3 separate regions of the Homo sapiens genome follow, and regions 1 and 3 are each linked to region 2. The links come from fine-mapping of genetic effects on gene expression. A gene starts in region 2. Each other region holds a variant in brackets. All regions are shown on one strand. Distances are from middle to middle.

The links. PIP is the estimated chance that this variant, and not a neighbour inherited with it, causes the effect.
Region 1: its variant is fine-mapped to the expression of ERFE in whole blood (TOPMed, PIP 0.93).
Region 3: its variant is the best candidate, but not a certain one, in a credible set for the expression of ERFE in whole blood (TOPMed, PIP 0.60).

The regions. Positions count from the first base shown.
Region 1 is chr2:238,209,639-238,212,306 of GRCh38, forward strand. No RefSeq gene overlaps it. Among named protein-coding and RNA genes, the nearest start is that of ILKAP, 7.3 kb to the left of the region's middle. The variant C/T (reference allele first, on the strand shown) is at 1,539.
Region 2 is chr2:238,157,855-238,160,522 of GRCh38, forward strand. It overlaps ERFE (erythroferrone), which reads left to right and starts at 1,116. Exons shown (of 8, transcript NM_001291832.2): 1 at 1,116-1,351. The coding sequence starts at 1,154. RefSeq lists a silencer at 1,094-1,163.
Region 3 is chr2:238,179,947-238,182,614 of GRCh38, forward strand. ILKAP (ILK associated serine/threonine phosphatase) reads right to left here. Exons shown (of 12, transcript NM_030768.3): 9 at 2,119-2,240. Among named protein-coding and RNA genes, the nearest start is that of ERFE, 22 kb to the left of the region's middle. The variant C/A (reference allele first, on the strand shown) is at 1,037.

The DNA of each region.
Region 1 (2,668 bases), 52 kb after region 2:
GCTAATAGACCAAGGGCCTGATTATGAGAACTGTGTAAATACAGATTAAAAGGTCTTAGGGGGTTTGGAAGGCCTAAAGTGGGGGCCTGTAATAACACACGTTTTAGGTGAGAGAAAGCATGATAAAGATCTGGGGTGGGAGTGAGGAGTTGGTCAAGATTTTCTTTTGTGTGTTCATAAAGGGATATAGCAACAATGGCAAAATTTGCTATCCATATTTGGAAATATCCCACTAATCCGAAGAAGGAAAGTAAGTCCCTTTTTGTTTTAGGAAATGGGATTTGTTGAACACCTTGCTTTCGTGCTGACAGAATTTGGAGTTATGATAAGTCCTGGGTATGAAATTTTTGAACTTTTCTTTTGGATACCCAGTACCCACATTCAGCCAAAAAATGTAAAAGCTTGGTGATGTGTTGAATACAGTATTCTAGGGAGGGGGTGCAAAAGAGTAAATCCACATATTGAAGCAAAATGCTGGGTTGTAGAGGTAGTTGGGAGAGGTCTAATTGAAGTGCCTGACCGAAATAGTGAGGGCTGTCCCTAAACCCCTGGGGGAGGACAGTCCAGGCGAGTTGTTGGGAGTAGCCTGTGTCAGGATCAGCCCAAGTGAAAGCAAAAAGGTTTTGAGAGAAGGGATGTACAGGGATAGTAAGAAAGGCATCTTTGAGGTCTAATACAGAGGAGTGGCTAGTGTTGGGAGGAATTCGTGATAGGAGGGTGTAGGGGTTTGGGACAACGGGACAAACAGGAATAATAGCGGAGTTGATTTGTCACAAATCCTGGACCAGTCTATAGGAGCTGTCTGGTTTTTTAACTGGAAGAATAGGAGTATTGTGGGGAGAATGGGTGGGGATTAAAATACTGGCACCCAAAATCAGGATATGATGGGCTTGAGTCCCTGCAATCCATCAGGGTTGAGGGGACAATGTTGGAAACACTATATAGTGCTTAGGATTCTTCAATGAAATTTGGGTTGGAGAATGGTGGGTAGCTATTATGGGGAAGTCAGCGTTCCATATGATGGGGTTTACATGGCTGAGAAATTTGAGATTTAAGTCTGTTTGATGTGGAGTGTCTGAGGAGGGCTTCTGTTCTTGACATAATAATAAATAAGGGTGTCTTTGGTGTAGGGCCGATAAATGAATGATTCCCCCTGTTTGTGTAGAATATCCCTTCCTAATAAGGGAGTGGGACAGTGAGGAATGACCAAAATAGAGTGAGTGAGGATGACTCCCTGAAATGAGCAGTATAGAGGCGGTGTTTTATATGGGGTTTCTTGTATGCCCTTCATACCAACACAGAAATGGATGAACGTTCTAACGGGCCTTGATAGTCAGTTAATACCAATAGGCTAGCCCCAGTATCCAAAAGAAAGGAAATAATCTTACCAGATACAGTCCCAATTACCCTCTGGGTTCTGTGGACTCACTAGACATGGGGGCAAAGAATCCTGGGTACCTTCAGTCCTCTGCTGTCAGCACCAGCAGTGAAGAGATTTCCTCCTGTGGATGGCTGGGGGACTTCATTATGAGCCACAC[C/T]GAATGGGGAAGGTGTCCCCATTGGGGGCAGTCCATTTTCCAGTGTCCCCAAAGACCACAAGTTGAGCATGGCTTGGTGGAGGGCTGGGGGTTAGGACAAGCCTTTGCCCAGTGTCCAGGGTTGCCACATCGGAAACAGACTCCCAAAAAGGTGGCAGAGTTTCCTTTTGGGTTATCGGGAGGCTTTTGTGTGATTGACTTTTGGACAGCAGAGGTGAGCATCTGGTATTTTAAATGGAGATGCTTGTCTTTTTGAATTTTTGGTTCCTCATCTCTGTTGTTAAAGACACAGAAGGCTGCATTTAGGAGGTCCCACCGAGATGTCTGGGGACCCTCTAGTTTTTGTAATTTTTTTTCTGGATATCTGGGAAATAAATTGGAGGTAGAAAAAGTTTGACCTTCTCTAGATTCTGGGTCCAAATTGGTATATTTTAGCATAGCTTCAGTGAGGCGTGATAAGAAGAGGGCAGGATTTTCCTGGGGCTCTTGTGTAATTTAACTTTTTCTTTTTTTTCTTTCTTTTTTTTTTTTTTTTTGAGACAGAGTCTCACTCTGTTGCCCAGGCTAGAGTGCAGTGGCGTGATCTCAGCTCACTGCAACCTATGCCTCCCGAGTTCAAATGATTCTCTTGCCTCAGCCTCCTGAGTACCTGGAATTACAGGTGCCCGCCACCATGCCCAGCTAATTTTTGTATTTTTAGTAGAGATGGGATTTTTTGCCATGTTGGCGAGGCTGGTCTCAAACTCCTGACCTCAAGTGATCCACCTGTCTCAGCCTCCCAAAATGCTGGGATTATAGGTGTGAGCCACTGCACCCAGCCTCAAAAAACCAACTTTTTACCTCATTGATCTTTTGTATTGTCTTCTTCATTCCAATTTCATTTCTTCCTGTTCTGATCTTTATTGTTTCCTTTCTTGTACTAACTTTGGCTTTTGTTTGCTCTTGCTTTTCTTTAAGATGCATCACTAGGTTCTTTATTTGAAGTCTTTCTTCCTTCCTTTCTTTCTTTCCTTTCCTTTTTTTTTTTTTTTTTTTTGACAGAGTCTCACTCTGTCGCCAGGCTGGAGTGCAGTGGCGCGATCTCGGCTCACTGCGAGCTCCGCCTCCTGGGTTCACAACATTCTCCTGCC
Region 2 (2,668 bases):
TCTCAAAAGAGTTCCCCGGGAACAGCAGCCCTCGGTGTGAGTGTAAGGTACTTTTCCAGCGGAGCCTTCTCCCGTTCTTTAACAAAAAGCACTGTGTACCCACCAGGGGCAGGTGCCTCGGGGGTGGGGCAAGCGAGCCAAGTGTGCGACCCTCCTCGGCTTAGCGTCCAGTGGTGGGGCAGATAGTCAAAAGGGCATGCGATATAACAAAGCCAGGGGTAGGGTGGGGCTGGGGCTGGCTCTTTCCTGGTAGGGCCGCCCAGAGGCCTCTCTGCCACCTTCTCCGAGGCCTGCAGGGTCTGGTCCACCTCTGGGGGCACTGATTCCGGTGGGCGGTGGGCAGCCTGGCTTCCGGTCTGGTCTGCCCCCACACCCCCGCTAGGGCACGATAGGGGTCAGTTCTCCCAGCCCAGGCCCCGCTCAGCCCCACCAGGGCAGGGCGGCTGTCCTGAGTTGTTTCTTGGCTCCCTGCGTCTTCTGGGTCCCGGCAGGTGCGACAGGTGGGGAAGAACAGTGAATCCCTGCGCTCAGAGCACGCCAGCCATGGACGGAGGGCGGCCTGGAAAGGGGAGTTCCCGCCTGGGAAAGGGGCGCTGAGAAGGGGCCCTGAGGGTCTCCCGGCTCAGATTTGCTCCACCTGTGTCATAGAGGCCTGGGCCTTGCGGGGCGCAGCCAGGAGAATGGGGAGGGGGTACCTCGGGGGTCCCTGCAGAGGACGTGGGGGACAGAGCGGGGAGAAAGGATGCCTCGAGCCGTCTGGGAGGAGGCAGCGCCTGGCTCCCCGCAAAGAAAATGGGGTCGCGAGGGCCGAGGGTCCAGGGCTGGGAGAAGGGGCGCCTCGCTCCCCAGGAAGCAGAAGCGCTGGACAGCGCGAAGGAGGGATCCCAGAACCAGGAGTTGCAGGGGGGACGCGCCCAGCAGGGGAACACCCCTCGCTCTCCCTGCCCTGCCCCGCTCCCCGTGCCCCCTCCCCCACTCCCCCTCCCCCGCCCGGACACTCCCCCCATCCCCATGCAGCGCGCACGGGAGCCGGGAGGGGGCGCGGGCGGGCGCGCGGTCTCGGGCGAGGCGGGGGATTCAAGCGCGTTATAAGGCGAGGAGCCCGGGGCGTCCGAGACGCCGCGCTCGGAGCCGCGAGGGAACCGCCGCCCGCATGGCCCCGGCCCGCCGCCCCGCCGGAGCCCGCCTGCTGCTCGTCTACGCGGGCCTGCTGGCCGCCGCCGCCGCGGGCCTGGGGTCCCCGGAGCCTGGGGCGCCCTCGAGGAGCCGCGCCCGCAGGGAGCCGCCGCCCGGGAACGAGCTGCCCCGGGGCCCCGGGGAGAGCCGCGCGGGGCCGGCCGCTCGTCCGCCGGTAAGACGCCCGGGCCCGCTCCAGACCCAGCCCGCGCCCGCACGCCCCGGCTCGGGGCGGCGGGAGGCGGACGTGGAGGCCGAGCCCGCCCTCACCCCCGAGGGCTGCTGCATCGCCTGGCACCGGGGCTCCGGGGCTCCGCAGAGACTCAGGGCCGTGTAGACGCCGCCCTCAGCCCGGCGGGGCAGCCTTGACTTTGGCTTTGGGGTAGTTTGACTTAAAGCAAGGTTCTACTAGGTCGGCGAAACCCCCCTTTTCTTTTGGGACAGAAGGAAGTTGGGAAATAGATAAAGTGTAAATAACTTGATTTGAGGAAATTGGGAAGAACGCATTTGTAAAAAGTGTAAGCGAATTACTGCCACCGCCCCCAATCTATTTGGTGCAATTATCTGGAAAACAAAAAGTGTTTTCCTGCGGATCTGGGGTCGGGGGGCTGTGCAGGGTGGGGAATGACATGTGGCTTTGAGTCAAGTGATCAGGTGGCTTTTGGCCGTGAGTGGGTGATCTTGAGCTCTGCCCTGCCCCCTCCTCTCCAGGGTTTTGGAGCCTGGACTGCTGAGCAGAGGGTGGTCCGGTTGGGGAGGTGTGGCCCAGGCCTGAGGAGGGGAGAACTTCAGAGGAGCCCTCAGTGTGGCCGGGCCTTGGGTCAGGGAGACAGGGCTGCCCCAGGGAAGCCGGGGTGGGCGGCCGGTGCTGTTTATTCTGAAGATGCTCAGGGGCAGTAGAGGGGAGAGCCAGGAACGCATCTACTAGAGAGGACAGGGGTGCAGCCAGGCCTGGGGTCCCCCAGAGTTCTCTATCCCGGCCCCATCACACCCAGCCACTTCCCAGGGACTGAAGGCACCCCCTCCCCGTGCAGTTGGCCAAACCACCCAGGTGGGCACAGCAGCCAAATGTCAGGGCACTGTCAGCAGGAGGCAGACGGGGCTCAGGGGCTTCCAGGTGGAGTTTTGGCCTTGGACCCTGTTTGTGGGGGACACAGTGACACCAGAGGTCCTCCCAGGCTCCAAGGCTTGTTTCTGAGAGACCCCTTGTGGCTGGAACCAGGGCAGCTGCCCAATACCCACCCCCATTGCTGGGGCCGTCTCCTGGGACGCCACCTTCTGCCTGTTACAGCTCTACCTGCAAACCACACTGGGGTCAGGGTCCGGCCACAGGCCACAGGTGCAGCTGGGAGGGTCAGCTGGGCACACCCCTCCTGGCCGGTGTGCGGCATCCTCGCCCCATGTTTCCACGGAGGGCACACAGGAAGTGGAAGAGGGTCCTGGGAGGGGGTAGAGGGGAGATCAGCCAGCAGGTGGTGCAGTTGACCCTCTA
Region 3 (2,668 bases), 22 kb after region 2:
GCCAAGGCAGAAGGATCACTTAGCTCAGCCTGGAAAACACAGACAGAGACCCTGTCTCTACCAAAAAATAAAAAAATAGCCAGGCACAGTGGCACATGCCTGTGGTCCCAGCTACTTGGGAGGCTGAGGCTGGAGGATCGCTTCAACCTCAGAGGTCAAGGCTGCGGTGAGCTGTGATCGTGCCACTGCACTCCAGGCAACAGATCAAGATTCTCTCTCTCAAAAAAAAAAAAGAAAGAAAGAAAAAGAAAAAGAAAAAGAAATGCCAAGTCCACGGCAGACATGGATGCTGACTAGACCCTGGTTTGAAACAAAGATACTTTGGGGATAACTCGGGAAATAAAAATATAGACAGGGTATTAGATAACTTAACCTAAGGAAATATTATTGTCTTAGGTGTGAAAATTCTCACTAATTATGTCAAGAACGTCCTTATCTTCAGGAGATGCATGCTTAAGTATTTAGGCTGTTATGTCATCATATCTGCAACTTTTAAACAGCTCAGCCTGACACACATCTATACAGACTAAACATGACACAATGTTCACTGCTAGTAGATTTGGAAATGTTTTACTATTGTCAAGTTTCTTCTGTATGTCTGAAAAATTTAATGATAAAAGCTGAGAGTGGGGCAGCCAGCCCTGGCCTCAGGCAGGAGAACAGACCACGACAGGGCTCTGCTGCTCAGGGGCAGCGACCCACGCTGCTGGTCTCTTAGCCTCAGCCCTTCTCTGAGATGAAGGAGTCACCCAAAACCCACACTGTCAAATGATTTCTCTAAGGCATGTAAACACTTCTCTGAATCAGGTAAGGACTGGGATATAGGAAGCAACTGCAACACAACTGGCCTTACTTTCAGCCATCGGACTGTCAGTATCCAATTATTTTCAAGGAGTTCAGGCAAAAGCAGAATGAATGTAAAACTTACAAGAAAGGGGAGAAGAGGTGATGCTTACGCTCATGTTAGAGTCACATTCTCAGGCATGACTGTCCACAGTAGTTACCAGGACAGTAGTTACGGTGGCAAAAACTGGGC[C/A]AACAGCACTGCTTGAGGCCTGAAACCAGGCCTATAATCCCATCACTGCTCATGTAAACTGCAGCGACCGTGAATGAAACTGCTTCTTACTAATCCAAGAGCTTTTTGAACAAACGCTAAGGGTTCCAACTACTCTCCAGAAACCTCCCTGTACCACTGACTAGATTCAGCCTGGAGCAATAAAAAAGGCTTCCCCAAATGAACAACAGAAGAGAAACTACACTTCAAAGGATAGGTAAGTGCAGTCTTATACTAAGAGATGACATCTCTCTTATCTCTGGCAGAAAATAAAATTTTAATAGTCAAACTGTACAACAAACCAGAAAATACTCCTGGTCTAATTCATAATGCAATGTCCTTGAAGTGGAATTCTAAAGAAAAGACTTATGCCCTCCTTTAGCTGCCTTGGATAGAAGCAGATAATAAAACCAGAGCAGACATATGGTTTTCAAAGATTTAAAGAGAGAGTGAAATGAAACTGCAAAAGACAGAGCCAAGTAAGACATGGTCCTCTGTGCCAGTTGTTCCCAAGAAGTCCAAAGACATTACTTAACCCGTCTTAACTACTTCAGATTTTCTCTCTGGAGAATTCACCTAAAACTGTAACTTATTCAATGTGAAAAGTGACAGGTTTTTTTTTTGGTTTTTTTTTTTTTTTGAGATGGAGTCTCGCTCTGTTGCCCAGGCTGGAGTGCAGTGGTGCGATCTTGGCTCACTGCAAGCTCCGCCTCCCAGGTTCACGCCATTCTCCTGCCTCAGCCTCCCGAGTAGCTGGGACTACAGGCGCCCGCCACCACGAAAAGTGACAGTATTTAAGAAACTTCCTAGGCACAGAGAAAACACTGTGAATGGTAAATATGAATTTGTCCTTTTGCAAATGTAGGGAGGCAAGTTTCCTTCCACGTGGACACATGTGAAATCTACAACTGTCATCCACCTATGTCACCAGTGTTAGATCTCAGACAGAGCCTCGTCACACTGAAGACTACGTAACAGGGGAAGTTCTACTCCTTGAAGGTCTCGGGACCCTTCTACAGCTAACAGCCCTCCTTCCCATGAGCTCCTCTCAGTCCCTTGGTTACCTGACGTTTCCTCCAGCCTTCTGTATCCTCATCCGCTCTTCATACTGAGTTGGATTATGCTCTTTGCTGAGGCTTAAGGCTGCATGTTTTTGACTCTCCTCATTATAACGACACAAGATTGCCTGGGAAGATGGAGATTGTAATAGTCATGAAATTCAGTGGGCGCAGCATCTAAAGGTACCAGTTGAAAAAAACAGTTAACAATGGAGTTTGAAGAAAACAGTTAACAATGGAGTTTCACATTCAGCCTCCTGCTGATAAACGTAAGTTCAGAGAATCAAGCAGCAAAGAAGTGTCAAAGACACAACAGTTAGGGAGAGAGTCGCCCCTGGTTTTGATATCAACTCTGGTACAAACTCTGCTGAATAACTACAGACAAGTGCTCACTCTGGCTGTTGTCACATTTGTGACATGAAAGGAAGCACTCAACAAGTATCAAGGTCCCTTTTGGCCTGGAGTCTAGAAGGCCAGAGACATGTCCATGAGCCTATGGAAGGCAAAGAGGAGGGCAAGCGTTGTGCATGCTGGCCGAGTGCCAGGTAGGCCGTCC